Linked DNA regions of Homo sapiens: region 1 is linked to region 2. A link means that fine-mapping ties the variant in region 2 to the expression of a gene that starts in the linked region. Tissue or cell type: whole blood. Region 2 holds a variant in brackets; the other region holds the start of a gene. All regions are shown on one strand. Distances are from middle to middle.

Region 1 (8,103 bases), 130 kb after region 2:
CTGTAGCCCAGCTACTCGGGAGGCTGAGGTGGGAGGATTGCTTGAACCCAGGACGGAGGTTGCAGTGAGCCAAGATCATGCCACCACACTCCAACCTGGGTGACAGAGTGAGACCCTGTCTTAAAAATGTGTGTGCGTGTGTGTGTGTGTACCCAGTATGTGGGTACACTAGGCTTAGGGTACCAGGCATAGGGGATGTGGCTATCTGCCCAAAGGATAAAGCTATCCCCCAGATCATCAAGGTAAATAATAATAATAATAATAATAACAATAATAATAGAAACAACAACAATAATAGAAATAATAATAATAGTAAACACTCTTACAACCCTTATCACATGCTAGACATTCTTATTTCTTTTTTTTTTTTAAGAAGAGTCTTACTCAGACAGATTGTAGTGGCAAAATCACAATTCACTGCAGCCTCCACTGCCTGGGCTCAAACAATCCTCCCACCTCAGCCTCTCCAGTAGCTGGGATCAGAGGGAGGCATGTACTACTACACCTGGCTATTTTTTAAAATTATTATTATTTGTAGAGACTAGATCTTGCTATTTTGCCAAGGCTGATCTTGAACTCCTGGGCTCAAGCAGTCTCTAACTTGGCCTCCCGAAGCTGGGATTACAGGCATGAGCCACTGCGCCTGGCCCACTAGACACACTTCTAAGCTTGATTACATATATTAATGCATTTAATTCTTCTGACAACTCTATAAGATTACTATTATCCCCATTAGTATTATCCTCATTTTACAGATGAGGACACAGAGGCCTATTTTTATCTTAACTCAAGCATACGTGTATTACGAAGGAGAACACAAAAATCACATTGATGTTTTCAACATAAAATACAAGATTTTGCAGAATTCTGGTTTCGTCCCCAGGCCCCTACTGCTAGCCACATGTCCACTTGGCTTAGCTTTCGGGAGTATTTGTGGAAGGGCTGAGCAGTAACCGCTCCAGGCAGTGGCTGAGGGAAACTCCCAGATGCCTGTGGGAGGGCCAAGCATCTTGACAGCAGGACCACAGATCCAGGAGGAACTGGGGTTTCTCTGCCTTTGTCTGGCACAAGTCCAATATGTTTAGTCCCCAGACTGAGGCTGAGAGAGGGGTAGAGGCTGGCCCAGGTCAAACAGCAAGTTGGTGGCTGGGCTAGAATTGGAAGTCCTGTGTTGTTCCCAATGATCTTTTGCCCCCAACCCTGGAATGGTCTAGGAACCCCTCACCCAGGACATTGAAGGCAGGCACCAGGCTAACATCCATCCAGTCCTCAAGATCTACGGATGTCAGGCGGAACTGCAGGGCCCCAGGCACGCTCTGCTCAGGAAACGTGAGTCTCAGACCAGGGACTGGGTTCTGCCACCAGGATTCCAGCGATGCCCGCATCTCACTGAGGATCTCTGCACGGCGGGCCCTCTGGTCCACATAGCTCTTGAAGCAGTCGAGGAAGATGACAAGTTCAGAATCACAGCCACCCTTGAGAGCTGTGCCCCGGCCCGAGGAGCCTCCCTGGGCAAAGAAAAATAACTCAGAATTTCATACTGTCCAATTCTAGTGGCCTTGCAACCTGGCAGGCAACTTGAGTGAGGCAAGTGTGCTGGGGAGAGACTGTGGCCACATGGCTGTAGGCATTGAAGCCACGCGGGAATGTGGGCCCAGGGTAGCCAGGCTCGAGATTTCAAGAGAAGCAATTTTAACATGTAAACTCATGATTTTTTTTCCATAGAAACAGGGTCTTGTTCTGTCACCCAGGCTGGAACACATAGCTCACTGCGGCCTTGAACTCCTGGGCTCGAGTGATCCTCCTGCCTCAGCCTCTCAAGTAGTTGAGACTACAGGCACACGCTACCATGCCTGGCTAGTTTTTACATTTTTTTAAAGAGATGGGGTCTTGCTATGTTGCCCAGGCTGGAGTGCAGTGGCTATTCACAGACACGATTGTAGCTCACTGCAGCTTGGAATTCCTGGGCTCGAGTGATCTTCTTGCCTCAGCCTCCCAAGTGTCTGAGACTATAGGCATGCACCACCGTGCTGGGCTAAATCCATACTTGTAATTTTATTTTTATTTTTAGTTTTGAGACAGAGACTTACTCTGTTGCCTAGGCTGGAGTGCAGTGGCACCATCTCAGCTCACTGCAACCTCCATCTCATGAGTTCAAGTGATTTTCCCACCTGAGCCTCCTGAGTAGCTGGGACTACAGGTGTGCGCCACCATGCCTGGCTAATTTTTGTATTTTTAGTAGAGATGGGGTTTCACCATGTTGGCCAGACTGGTCTCGAATTCCTGACCTCAAGTGATCTGCCCTCGTTGGCCTCCCAAAGTGCTGGGATTACAGGCATGAACCACCATGCCAGGCCTATATCCATGATTTTTAAATGTTGGCAACTAACTTTTTAAAAACTCAAGACCGCAGGTAAAACAAATTCTGCTTTGCAGAACACACATTTGCAATCTTTGCTCAGAATGGGTACAGAACTGTGGTATGACTCAATTTCTGAGACCTGTGTGATTAGTGTTTCTTTCGGCAAAGCTTCCAACCTGAGGATTTGGAAAAGAAACTCCTAAACATTGTCAGAGCCACTGTTCTGTGTCTGGGATCTGACGTCTCTAATCTCACTTCCAACACAAAACAACTGTGATGTAGTTACATGTGGCTGCAGATATGGGGAGTGAGGCTCAGATGGTGAAATGAGTTACACAGCCAGTAAACAGCAAGAACCAGGATGGAGCCCTCCAGGAGCAAGGCTTGCCTCAAACTGGGACCCCCTACTTATCCCGATGATTATGCCAGTCCTTTTACTACCAGCTCCCACCATCTGGGGGCTGCTGACAAAGTGGGAACAGGGAATATTACAGGCTGGGCACTTCCTGCACGTTTTGCACACTCTCATCTCATTGAACCTTCCTCACAGCCCCAGAAGGAAGGTACCACTTTACAAAAGAGGAAACGAAAGCACAGGGAGATTGCACCGTGCTCACTTTACAAAGGAGACAATGAAAGCACAGGGAGATTGTGCTCCAGAACCCCCTCCCACCCCTTTCCAGGGAAGCTAAGGATGCCAGGGCTTTCCCTTGCTGCACAGAAATCCCTCCTGTCCATCTCCAAGGTAGAAACGGGACTTCACACCTCCTAGGCGACAAGTGTCTCCTCCTTCCCCACCTCCCAAGCTGAGAGTCAGCCCCAGGAAACCACTAGGTGCTCTGAGGCCATTTCTACTCTGCGTTTTCACTCCCTCTCCTGACAACCTCCTCTAGCACACCCAGGTTCCCTCCATCAATCCACTCCTGGCACCCCCAAATCTACCCTGAGGATAAGGTAGCTCATGACTTGTCTCCTCCCTGAATCTGCGAGTGTCCTGGGATCACAGTGGCAGTGTGGCTGTATTTAAGTGACAAAAAGTGACCCGGAGCCTGGGCAACATGGTGAAATCCCGTCTCTACAAAAAATGCAAAAATTACCTGGGCATGGTGGCTCACACCTGTAATCCCAGCACTTTGAAAGGCCAAGGCAAGTGGATCACTTGAGCCCAGGAGTTCCAGGCCAGCCTGGGCAACACGGCAAAACTCTATCTCTACAAAAAATGCAAATAATTAGCCAGGCATGGTAGTGTGCACCTGTAGTGCCAGCTACTTGGGAGGCTGAGGTGTGAGAATAACTTGAGCCCAGGAGGCGGAGGTTGCTGTGAGCCAAGATCATGCTACTGCACTCCAGCCTGGGTGACAGAGCGAGACCCTGTCTCAAAAAAAAAAAAAAAAAAAAAAAAAAAAAAAGATGTGACTCAGAGTAGTAATTTAGCGTCTAGCCTCAGTTTCCCTATCCATAAAACAGGTACAATAATACCTGCCTCACTGAACGTGGGGATGAAATGAGGTAATACTCATTTAATGAGATAATTTTCATTGTTATTTGATAATGTCTCAATAAATTGGGCTACTCTGGCTGTTACGCGGAGTGTTATTACTTCTGTAACCTTAAGGTCTGGCATAGTGTGAGGCCCACAGTCTGTTTGAATGACTGGGAGAATGAGTGAATGAGTGAATGAATGGATAAGAAGCAGCCTCTGAGAGTAGAGATGCAGGAATCAGGCTACTTGGATTTGAATCCTGGCTGGGCCTCTTACAGGATCGGACACGTCACTGTACCTCTCTGTGCCTCATTTTCTCTATCTGTCAAGCGGGCTTAAGAGTACCTACCTGGCTCGTATGTTCGGGGGAGTTAGCACGGGGCTGGCACATTGGAAGTATTTGTTAAAGAAATGAATGAGGTGCACAAGCGGATAAAGCCACCCCCACCGTAAGCCTATGTGAGGCTTAAGCGTCCTCCCAGGACTCCCCTTTGGACACATAAAGACCCCGAGGTGGGACCTCACCTTGACAGTTTTCAGCACCCGCGGGGCAGCAGCACCGAGGCGGCCCCCGCGCTCCCTCAGGGCAGCGGCCAGGGCGCCCAGAGCGCGCCGCGCCTTCTCTACGAACTCCTTCCGCGGCTGCAGCCTTCTGGCCACGAACCTGTCCAGCGCAGCGGCCGGGGTGCTGTACAAGTCCATGGCCGCCCGGCGCAGGTGCAAGGGGAAGCAGGGCTCTGGCGCGGCCTTCGGATTTCTGGTTTCGTTTTCCCGCCCGGCTCTCCGAACCACGCCCAGCTGGCCAGGTCCTAGGTCCTCGGTCCCGCGCGTGGCGTGAAACGGGGAGGGGCGCTGCAGTTCCTGTCTTCCCCAAACTTGGGAAATTCCCTGCTTTCAGTTTCGTTTCTTTCTAGCAGCTCTTGGACCTGACACCCACTTCCTGGTCCCCTTCCCAGCTACGACTTCCTCTCCTTCATCTCCTTGCTTCCAGCCGTCCCTGCAACCACCAGCTCCAACGAACTAATCACAACCTAACAAAGTATACCCACAGAACATATGGGTACATACTGAGTAACGTACTCTGAGCATTTCAGAAACGTGCAGGTTTTACATGGAAAAAAAAGGTCAGGATTTAATAAACGGAGAAGTCCTACCTCGCTGTCTGACTGAGGGATGCGTTCTAAACACCACTACCACCACCAACGATAATAAAGCACACTTGGAGACTCTCACTGACTCCTCCCAACGACCATGGTGTAGGTGCTATTATCATCACCCATTTGACAGATGAGGAAGTCAAGGTACAGAGGAACTAGGTAACTGTCCAAGGTAACACAGCTGGAAAGTTGTCTGGCTGGATTCAAACCCAGCCCAAGCCCACAGAGCTGCCCTCTTCAGAAGCCAACTCTTCCTAAATAATTTATACGTGTAATGCAGTTCCAATAAAAATTCCATCTTTAAAAACTTCAAACACACGATCTAAAGTCTGTCTGCAAGAATTAAAAATTATTTTGGAGGAGAAGGAGGAAGGAAAGTCAGTCAGTTTAGGATGGTACCTTGCACAACAATACTACATATTAAAACATTGTAAAGCTACAATAGGGAAATCCTCTTGGAATGGGCACAAAGCTAAGCGGACTGTAAGCTATAAGCTGCAGAGTGGAGATTTGAATCCAGGACCATTGCGCTTCTATCTTCATGGCCTGTCTCCTTTTTCTGCTTATTTCCTGCTGCTTCTCCACCCGGGTTCCTAGAGACTGCACACCTGAGCTCTCTTCCAGGCCTGGTCCAAGCCATAGCCTATCTCCTCCTCCCCATCTTACTAAAAAACTCCCAGGTCCTCTCTCCTGTCTGCTCCGGGACCCAGCATTTACTCTGCCTCTGAGTACACTTCAGGTAATAGTCTTAACAAGTGCTTCCTGACATCTGCACGGTAACTGAAAGGAAATAGATAGGATCAGAGTGTGAATTTCAGAGGTCATGGTCAACTAGAGGGAGAGATGCTGGGTCTGTAATATGTACACCAGCTAATATTTTGAGTAGTGAATGCTGCATCACTTGGAATATTCAAGTATGGGCAGGTTTTGTAGGTCAGGTGTTGTGGTGGGGATTTAAGTCAAGGGATTGAGCAATGATTTTCATTCTCGCCCATTAATCACAGTCTTCTTCCTGAGTCACAGGCCACTTTAGAAACTTTCCATTCAAGATAGTGGATTGAACACATGCTCAAAATTCTATTAAAATAGCAGCAAAGATATATTAAAAGCATAATGGAAATCAACAGGGTTGGAAACTGAGAAAAAGTGGAGTCAAGGGGGCGGGACATTTGAGGCATTTTTAGAAGATGGAACGCAGAAGGGTCAATATTGGGTCATGATGGTGGACTGAACATATGCATAAGCCTTCAACGTCCATCCCAGGCCTCTAGAGGTGGCAGGAAAGCGATAGAAAAACTTTAATAATGTTGCTGGGTCCTAACCAGAGGTGTCCCAGGTAAACTGGAATCTGAGATCCCTGTCAGAGATATGAGACTGGATGAAGGAGGAAATTGCAGCCAAAACACATAAAGGAGGGGGTACCTATGCAGAGTGGAAAGGCTCTGAGGAGCTGCAGGCTCCAGGCAGTGGATTGAAGGAAAAGAAGGGACCCTAGGTTAACTCTCATGGTTGTCAGTTGTGCTGGCATAGTAATGGCAGCCTCTAAAGACATGTGGTCTCCCGCCCCAACCTTTCTGTGTTGAGTAACAGGCAGCAGAGGTGCCTGCCTAAGGAGGGAGCAGTGAGGGTGGGGCAGAGAGGCAGGGAAGTACACAGCATACCTGGCCACATCTGGAAAGAACAGGAAGTCCTGTATGCAGAAGACTCATTCCTGGCACATCCCCTTTCCTCATCTCTGCCTCCAGCTGCAGTAAGAAGGTACCAACTTCACAGGGAGACAAGCAGAACATCCCCAGTGAGCAAAAAGCACACATCCAAAGGTGCCAAATTATTTTGGGAGATCCAATGCTATGAACATAAAAACTCACATGTAAGGACACTGAAATAATCAATAAAGGAGAAAGAGTCTTCTGTGGTCTAAATTTGTCCCCCAGAATTCATGTGTTGGAAACTTACTCCCCAATGCAGCAGTTGGGAAGTGGGGTCTAACAGGAGGTGTTTGTGTCATGAGGGCTCTGCCCACGTGAGTGGATTATGGCCACTGTGAAAAGAGCTTGGAGGAATGGGCTCATTGTCTTCTGCTTTTCTGCCATGTGAGGACATAGTGTTCCTCCCCTCCAAAAGACACAACATTCTTCAAGGCGCCATCTTGGAAGCATAGAGACCAGGTCCTAACCTGCTGAAGCCTTGGTCTTGCACTTCTCAGCCTCCAGAACTGTGATAAGTAAATTTCTGTTCTTTACTAATTTCCCAGTCTGTGGCTTTCTGTTTTAGAAGTACAAATTGGACTAATACGGTCTTAGAAATATATAATTAATATCCTCAGAGGGATTAGATATTATATCCATTATAATTATTCATTGTATTCATGATTATTCATCATATCCATGAAATAAGAACAGTGATGAAAGTCAACAATCACCACTATCACATTGGAAGTGAAAACATAATGCAAAATAAAACCAAAGATGAACAGAAAAACCGAACCTTCTCCATAGATAGGCTGAATAAATATACCTGAAGATAAAATCAGTAAACTGGAAGATGGAATGGAGGAAATTACTCGAGATTACAGGAAAGCAGAACATAGAAAAGAAAGGTATAAAAGACAACTTATGAGATGTGGAAAACAGATCCTTTCCTTATTCTTATAAATATTTATTAAGGCCAGGTGCGGTGGCTCACGCCTGTAATCCCAGCACTTTGGGAGGCCAAAGCAGGTGGATGACCTGAGGTCAGGAGTTCGAGACTGGCCTGGCCAACATGGTGAAACCCCGTCTCTACTAAACATACAAAAATTAGCTGAGTATGGTGGCAGGCACCTGTAATCCCAGGTACTCAGGAGTCTGAGTCAGGAGAATCACTTGAACCCAGGAGGCAATGGTTGCAGTGAGCCAAGATCACACCATTGCACTCTAGGCTGGATGACAAGAGTGAAACTCTGGCTCAAAAATAAAATAAATAAATAAATAAATAAATATTTATTCAGTGTTTTCTTTATGGTAGCCACTGGTCTAGCACAGAACATGTGTGGTGAATAAGTGAAAAGGCCTCTGCTCTCATGGAATTTATATTCTAACGAGAGAAGATGGACAAAAAAT
Region 2 (8,103 bases):
GGGGTTGAAGAGGTGGAGAGGTTGGACTGGCAGCCCAGCCCCAGGAAATAAGGTCCCTGGGCACCTACCATGTTCCAGCCAATCAGACAAAAACTTCCCCTGCATCTCTGGGGCAGCCTCACTCTGATGCCTGATTTATCATTTTAATTGAGTGTGTGCAGATTGATTTCTTCCCTGGTGATGGGGCTTCCTCCACAGTAGGCCCGGGAGGAGGTGAGTTAGAGAGAAAACCCTGGATCCTGCTCCCACCTGCTCTTGTGTGCTGGTCTTCCCCTCTCAGGGCCTCAGTTTCCCCACCTGCAAAATGAGGGGTTGTGATGACTGATCTTCAAGGCTGATGTGCCTGAAGTACCACCATTCAGCTCCTGGTGAGGTGAAGGCAGTGTATTACCTGAAAAATGTGCAGGATAGGAAGGGAAGCAATGGGAACCCGCCTTATTTAACTTCCCCTGTGTGCCAAATCCTGAGCTCGGCAGGGGAGGGGCCGGGATAGGAGGTGCAGAGTGAAGTGATTCAAGCAACTCAGAAGTCTCTCGGGTCGAGCCAGGTGCAGTGGCTCATGCCTGTAATCCCAACACTTTGGGAAGCTGAGGCGGGTGGATCATCTGAGGTCAGGAATTCGGGACCAGCCTGGCCCACATGGTGAAACCCCCGATCTCTACTAAAAAATACAAACATTAGCCAGGCGTGGTGGTACGTGCCTGTAATCCCAGTTACTCAGGAGGCTAAGGCATGAGAATCGCTTGAACCCAGGAGGCAGAGGTTGCAGTGAGCTGAGATCACACCATTGCACTCCAGCCTGGGCGACAAAGCAAGACTCTGTCTCAAAAAAAAAAAAAAAAAAAAAAAAAGAAAATCTCTCAGGTCTTGTGCAAATCCTGGCTGGTACCACACATAGCCTCAGTGCCCTTATCTATAAAATGGGGGTATTAATATCTACCCCAAAGAATTACTGGGGAAACAAAATGAGATAACGTATAGGCAAAGGTGCTTAGCAGAACACTTAGCATTTAGTAAGCACTCAATGAATACAGCTACAATGGCTGATATTACATATGTTACCCACATTCATCCTCCCCCAGCCCTTGTTCACTTGGCAAACTCCTATTCATCCAGCAAAGCCCTCCATGTGCTCATCTCCTCCAACATGGGCTTCTCTGTTCTGTTGCTATAGTTGGCAAACGCAGCAGTCTTTTATTGCATGTCTGTCCTCACACTGTCATTATTTGTTTTTGTTCTTAGTCATCCTCATTGGTAGATCACTTTTGGGAGGACAAAGACTACTAGGTCAGATATGCAACTATGTTTGGAGCACCAGGCACAAAGCCTGGTGCAAAGAAGACATCTGCAAGCGAGACGGGCAACCTACTTGGCACTTGGAGGAGTGGGAAAGAGGAAAATCTGGGCTTGATGGAGAGGGAGTGGAGATTGGAGAGCAAGCAGCCCCCAGGGTGGAGGCCAAGCTTCGAGGGGTCCCTGGGGAGGACCCTCAGGCCAGGAGGAGGATTCTCAACATCAGCGTTGGCCAGCTCTGCAGCAAAGGACTCTGGGAGCCCGTCAGGGCCAGCTAGCCCAGGCCTCCCTCTCTCCAGGGCTCTATTTACCAGGTATCGATTTTCCTGCCTGTTTACTGGTAGTTATTAAAGGCTGTGTCCCTGGAGTCCTTTTGAAACAAGATTGGAACCTGGAGAGCAGGAGTAATTAGGGCAGCTGCTGTCCTCCCCGCTGGGCCCTGCACCCCGCAGCGCCCGCCGCTGCCCGCCTGCCCATCCGTCCGCCTCTCCGGCCCAGGCTGGCCATGGACCAGGCCGAGGGGGTGGGCAGCTGGTTCCTTGGTGACCTGCCTGGACTTCGATCTCAAGATTTCTAAGGGAGCAGTGGTGGAAATGCTCCTTCTCCTCCGCAGTGGCCATGGCCTAGATTTTCAGCCAGAACAATGGGTCTAAGAAGGGGCTGGAGTTTCTTCAGCCTGGGAAAGAGGCTGGGCCTCAGGCTGGTGGCCCAGAGCAGACCACACCCCACTCTGGCCTTCAGGGCACCCTGCTGTGCTGGCCACAGGGTCTGCGTCCCCCAGGCAGTTAGGGGCCTGTGACAAACATGGGCTCCGTGCCTCTGCCTCGGCCTGTTTTTGTGTCTCTGCCTTTGTTGTCTTCCCCTTCTCTCTCCTCCCTAGTTGCTTAAAAATGTTTGGCAGAAAAATTCCAGGCTTCTTCCAGCTGAACTGGAGAAAGGGGCTTTGGTCAGTGTCAGCTGGAGGACTGCACAAGCTGGGCCCCTGAGACCGGGTGTGGGGGCGGCCACAGCCACAGCTGCCAGTGACTGCTTCATGCCTGGGGCAGAGACAGGGTGACAGCAGGATGGAGAGAGACAGAGAGAGACATACATGATCAAAGAGACTGTCAGAGACAGGCCAAGGCCAACATGGGAAACTGAGGCAGATACCAAGAGAGCTGGAGTCAGAGATAGAACGAGCTTGAGAGATGAAAAGAAAGGGAAGCTGGAAACCTGGAGGCTGAGACCATCATGGAGAATCAGGGAAACCAAGGCTAGCATTTATTGAGCACCTACTGTATGGCACATGCTGCACTCAGCACTCTCCTTGCACTCACTCATTCCATCCTCACACCATTGCTTCCAGGGAGGGACCAGGACTATTTCCATTTTACAGATGAGGAAACTGAGGCCCGGAGAGGTGAACTCTTGGGAGGGTGAGAGCAGAGGGCTGGGAATGATGCCACACTCGTGGAGTAAAGGCAGGCCCAGGTTGGACTGGTTCCATGGGGTTCAACCTCACCAAGTGGTAGCACAGCCTAGGATACTTCCAGCGATGGAGAGCTCACTACTTCAGCTTTACTTTCCGTTGTTTAGCCGTGTGAGGTTTCTGCCCTAGAGCATGGTCCCGATCTGAACCCACTGCCTAGAGGTGGGTATGTGGGTGCCTCAGCCCCCACCTCTTGGCCTTAAGAAGCAGCTGACTCCATGGAGAAGGGGGAGGGTTCTGAGCCCCCGAGCCTTCCTCCTGCTGGTCCCTCAGCCTCTAAACGGTTCCTCTCTGGGCTGGGCCAGCTTCAAGGCCCAGCAGGGAACCCCTCCCTTTGGGGGTGGCTTCCCGGAGGGAAGTGATCTCAGTTTGGGGGCACCCAGACCCTGACGGGAAGGGGGCACGTGGGAGGCGGTCATGGGACATCCTGTCAGGCTGGGGGAGTCCCACCACAGGCTGAGGCCTGTGACCGGGGGTTGGGCAGTGGCTGGGCCCCAGTCAGAGACTTCACTGAATCCTTCACCAAC[C/T]CAGAAGTCATAATACTAACAGCCATCCACACTCAGAGAGCACACTTTTCTGCCCCAGGCTGTGTTTAGCTCATTCAAGCGAAAGAGTGTGTTTAGCACCCCTAGGAGGTGGGGGTGTTATTGCCCCATTTTAGAGGCGAGAAAACAGAGGCACGGAGCAGTTAGGAGCACACCGGATGCCATCTGTGAGTGGTCCAGCTGGAGCCTACACAAGGCCACCTTGCTTCATTTGCTGTTCCCTCTGACTTAGTCTCATGAGCCCATGTTCTGGGGGAGGAAACTGAGGCACAGCGGTTGCATGGTAAGTAAGTGACATGGCTGAGGTTCCAACCCTGGATTGCTATGTGACCTTCTGGAATAGCCCCTTAGCTGGCATCTGCATGGCTGCTCACCTGTCTCCTACAACAAGGACAACAGCGGCACCCAACACCTTACCGAATGCTCCGCAGTGCCAGCAACTGTGCTAGGGGCTCACACACATCATCTCCCAGTCCTCACAGCAGCCCCAGGGGTGTGTGTGCTAATATTAGCCCCATCGGACAGATGGGGAGACTGAGGCTCCCTAAGAAGACGTGGAAGTCTGGCTGGGGGCACCGGCTGGGCTGGGATTCGAGCTGCAGCCTGTGGATCCAGGCTGCCTCACCAGCTCCTGCCCCATGATCAATAATCCCGCAGTGTTCTGTTTCCCTCCAAACTCTCCTCTGGGATTCATCAGGCTAAGCTGTGGCCCATTAGTGGTTTCCTTGTGGTTGAAGCTGGCCCAGGTTCTCCAGGGTCTGCTGGAAGCCAGGCCAGGGTGGTGGGGAGACAAGGGGAGGAGAGGGGGTCTGCAGTGCTGCCTAAGGAAGGCTGAAGGGCTGCGTGGCACTCGGAGAGGCTACCACCTTGGAGGCTGCTGGCAGGCGGAGGCGGGCACTCATACGCCATGGGCTGTATGGGGGGCTTTCTGGTCACCTGGCTTCCCACACACCCAGCAGGGGATTCAGATCCCTAGCAAAGCAGGAAGTGGAGGGGGAGGGGACAGAGGGCTGGACAGTCCTCCACAGCCTGAGCCCTCCAAACTGCTCCTTTCTCATCTGTGAAATGGCATAATTGTAATAATAATAAAATAATAATGATAATAAACACTCCCAGAGGGCCTACTATGTGCCAGGCGCTGTTCTAAATGCTTCGTGTAAGTCAACTCTTCAGCCACAAAATGACTGGGGCAGGTTGTTATGATAATAATGATAATAAACATATGATAATGATAACTATTACGATCACTGTCTTGTACAAACACTGAGTGAAGCACAGAGAGGTGAAGCAATTTGCCTGAAGTCCAGAGTCACATAGCCACTGGGCTACTAAGTGAAGATTGAATCTAGTCAGGATTTGAACTTCCCCGACTTCCACTGTCAGCCCTCTGGCCCATGCCACCAGAGTGCTAGCCTGGACTGTTGCAGGGGCCTCCTCCCCATGTCCCAGTGTCCACCCTTTGCAATGTTCAGTGCATTCTCACATGGCGCCGGGGGGATTTTTCACAGACTCAAGGCTGGACTGTGTCACTCCTCTGCTCCACAGCTATCAATAGCTCCCTAGTGCCCTTAGGAATCAGTCTAAACTCCTTAGAGTAGCCTCTGAAGCCCATCACAAGCTGTCTGCACAGCCTCACACTCTAACCACACCAAAATTCCAGCTATTTTTTGAACATACCGTGTGTGCGGTTATGCCTCTGTATTTGCATATGCTGTTCCATCTGTCTAGAGTGTCCTACCCACCCCACCCCACTGGCCTCCCTGCTGAGTTCTTTCTCAATCTTCTGGCTCAGCACAAGCACTCTGTCTTCTTGGAATCTTCTCTGCCATCCTTAGGGCAAACCACTCGCTCCTTGGGGACTCCATAGCACCTTGCGCCTGCAATGCTCCCATCAAAGCACATAGCTCACTAGGTGCGGAGGTGTCTGTGTTCCTTCGGGCCTGGCAGCCCCTCCAAGGCTGGGCTGGTTTACAGTCACCTTGGCATCCCTCTGTGGTCAGGAGTGCAGGGAGGTAGGTCCTTGCAAAATGTTGGATGAATGAATAAATGAATGAATAACCAAATACATCTGAATGAACCTAACTGAATGCTGCTCATGACTAGGCTGGAGACTGCAAGCTGGGCGGATATGGTTTTGTTCTGGTTCACATGCTATTTACATTTAAAAAATAGTGACCTGTATTTATTTATTTATTTATTTTTTGAGACAGGATCTCACTCTGTTGCCCAGGGTGGATTGCAGTGGTGCCATGATAACTCACTGCAGCCTGCACCTCCTGGTCTCAAGCAATCCTCCAGCCTCAGCCTCCTGAGTAGCTGGGATCACAGGTGTGTGCCATCATGTCTAGCTATTTTTTTTTTTGTTTTTATTTGGTGGAGATGGGGTTTCACTACATTGCTCAGGCTGGTCTTAAACTCCTGTGCTCAAGTGATCCTCCTGTCTCAGCCTCCCAAAGTGCTGGGATTCCAGGCATGAGCCACCTCAAATGGCCTCACATTTAAAAATTGGGGCAGATTCACACCAGTCCAGATTTCAGAAATCCCCAGATATCCAAGGGTGGGGCCACAACAATTGGCCTCCTTGGCAACAGTGAGCAGGAGCTGAGTTATGCTGGCCCCATTCATGCCTTCAAGTATTTATTGAGCACCTGCTGCATACCAGGCACTGGAGAGCAAGACAGTTAAAAAACCTCTGCCTTCCCAGACACTGCACACACTTCTATTAGTTGCCCAGGCCCTGTAAGCATCTGAATTTGCAGCCTTTGTGTAGATGGGTAAGCTGAGCTGCAGAGAGAAACTTGGGCAAGATCACCTGGCAAATTAGAGACAGGCCTTGGACCCAGGCTCCCTGACTGTCATTTCCACAGGGCCAGGTGAGTAACACCTTGGAACAAGTGAACCTTCGCCCCCTAGAACAGAGGAAGCTGGGGAGGGCAATGCTTACCCCAGCCAGGGGGAGGGCCCTGGGAAGGTGGTATTCCAGGTAAACTCTGTGCTTCCTCTTACCGTGCTCTGCTTGCAGTTGGAGGGGGAGGGGACAAAGGCCCAGTCGGTCATCGGGACAAGAGGTGGCTGTGCTGCAGCTGCTGGCAGGACTGTCCTGGCAGCCTCCTTTGATTGCCTCGTCCTTTGTTCTGCATCTCAGGGTGCTCAGCTCCAGGGCCCAGCGCCAGACTCCCTCATGCACCCCGTCACCGGCCTGCCACTGCTGTCTGTGCAGGCAGCAGTAGCAGCCTGGAGCAGCTCCAGAGGGATGATGGAAGGAGCCCAGAGAGGGAGAGGCGCTTGGCCAGGGTGGCCGAGCAAGGACACAACTATGCGGGACCTAGAGGAGACTCAGCTCCTAGCCCGGCAGCTCCTGGGCTCCAAGGTAGGGGACAGTCCTATATGCTGGGACTTCCTTGGCGCCTGGCCTCCTGCATCACACCCATCATCACTCCACCCCTCACCCCCAGAACAGAAGCACCTTGAGGGCTTCTGTGTCTGTCCTGTTGATTGTGACATTCCTAGTGCCCGGACAGTGCCTGGCACACAGTAGGTGCTCATGAAACTCCTGATGAATGAATGAATAGTGACCACAATCACACAAGTTCAGTACTATCATCAGGTCCATATTACAGGTGAGGAAACAGAGGCTCAGAGGCTCAGGGAGGGAGTGTGGTTTACTTAAGGTCACAAATCTCCCCACCCACTACGATTCTTTTTTTTTTTTTTGAGACGGAGTCTCACTCTGTTACTCAGGCTGGAGTGCAATGGCTCAATCTCAGCTCACTGCTACCTCCACCTCCCGGGTTCAAGTGATTCTCCTGCCTTGGCCTCCCGAGTAGCTGGGATTACAGGCGCCCACCACCATGCCCACTAATTTTTGTATTTTTAGTAGAGAGGGGGTTTTACCATGTTGGCCAGGCTGGTCTCGAACTCCTGACCTCAGGTGATCCACTCACCTTAGCCTCCCAAAGTGCTGGGATTATAGATGTGAGCCACCACACCCGGCCTACACACCCCATGATTCTTAGTAAGCAGCTGGGATGGGAACCCAGAGCCTGGCCCTCACCAACAGCATTCCCCGAGGTAGCTGTTTCCAGGTTCCAGGCCCCATGTCCTCAGTTGATGTCAGCCAGAGGCAGCTAGGGGCTGCTGGGGGTGTCTGTGTCAACCCAGAGGCTGGGTGGGCTCATGGGGGTGACTATCTAAGGGACTGGAGCTGTCCTGGGGACTGGCTACCACCGGTTGTGATTCCAGAGCCAGGTGGAAGGATGGAGGCCCAGGGAGAGACAGAGGTGGCGGGCGGAGGCCTGGGAGCACCCCAGGCACCCCCATGCACCAAGAACATCACACTGGAGAGAGAGTTAGGGACCTCAACCCCATTGCCTACTGCCTGAATGGGCACTTGGAGCCACTGTGACCAGTCCTGCCCCAACCCCTTGGCCTCCCCGTGGCCTCCCCGTCCTGGCCCCTCCTCGTCACCCTCTCATCACACCCTCCATCATCTCCCCTCCCAACCCCTCACGCTTCACTCCTTACCACCTTCTTCACCATCCCCTCCACAGCCCCGCTACCTGTCACTTCCGCATCACCTCCCCTACTCCAGCCCCCACGCTTCCCATCACAGCTTCCATCTCCTCCTTCCTCTCCAGGTCAGACTCCGCAGCTCCTTTGGAAGAATGAGGCGGGGGATGGGAGGAAGCTGGAGAGGAGGAGGGAGGGAAGAAGGAGGAGAAAGGGGTGAGGGGAGGAGAAGGAGAGGGAGAGGGCTGCGAGGGGGTCTGTCCCGGGCATCCCCACCCCCAGCCCGGA

Evidence for each region. PIP is the estimated chance that this variant, and not a neighbour inherited with it, causes the effect.
Region 1: OAS3 starts here. The variant in region 2 is fine-mapped to the expression of OAS3 in whole blood (TOPMed, PIP above 0.99).

Annotation. Positions count from the first base shown.
Region 1 is chr12:112,934,975-112,943,077 of GRCh38, reverse strand. It overlaps OAS3 (2'-5'-oligoadenylate synthetase 3), which reads right to left and starts at 4,604. Exons shown (of 16, transcript NM_006187.4): 1 at 4,371-4,604; 2 at 1,226-1,508. The coding sequence starts at 4,547. RefSeq lists enhancers at 2,718-2,887, 3,886-4,055, 4,479-4,648, 4,612-4,921, 4,816-4,985 and 1 more and a silencer at 4,302-4,391.
Region 2 is chr12:113,065,445-113,073,547 of GRCh38, reverse strand. All of the region lies in intron 2 of DTX1 (deltex E3 ubiquitin ligase 1), which reads right to left. Among named protein-coding and RNA genes, the nearest start is that of DTX1, 13 kb to the right of the region's middle. RefSeq lists enhancers at 5,980-6,480, 7,722-8,103 and a silencer at 8,037-8,103. The variant C/T (reference allele first, on the strand shown) is at 3,289.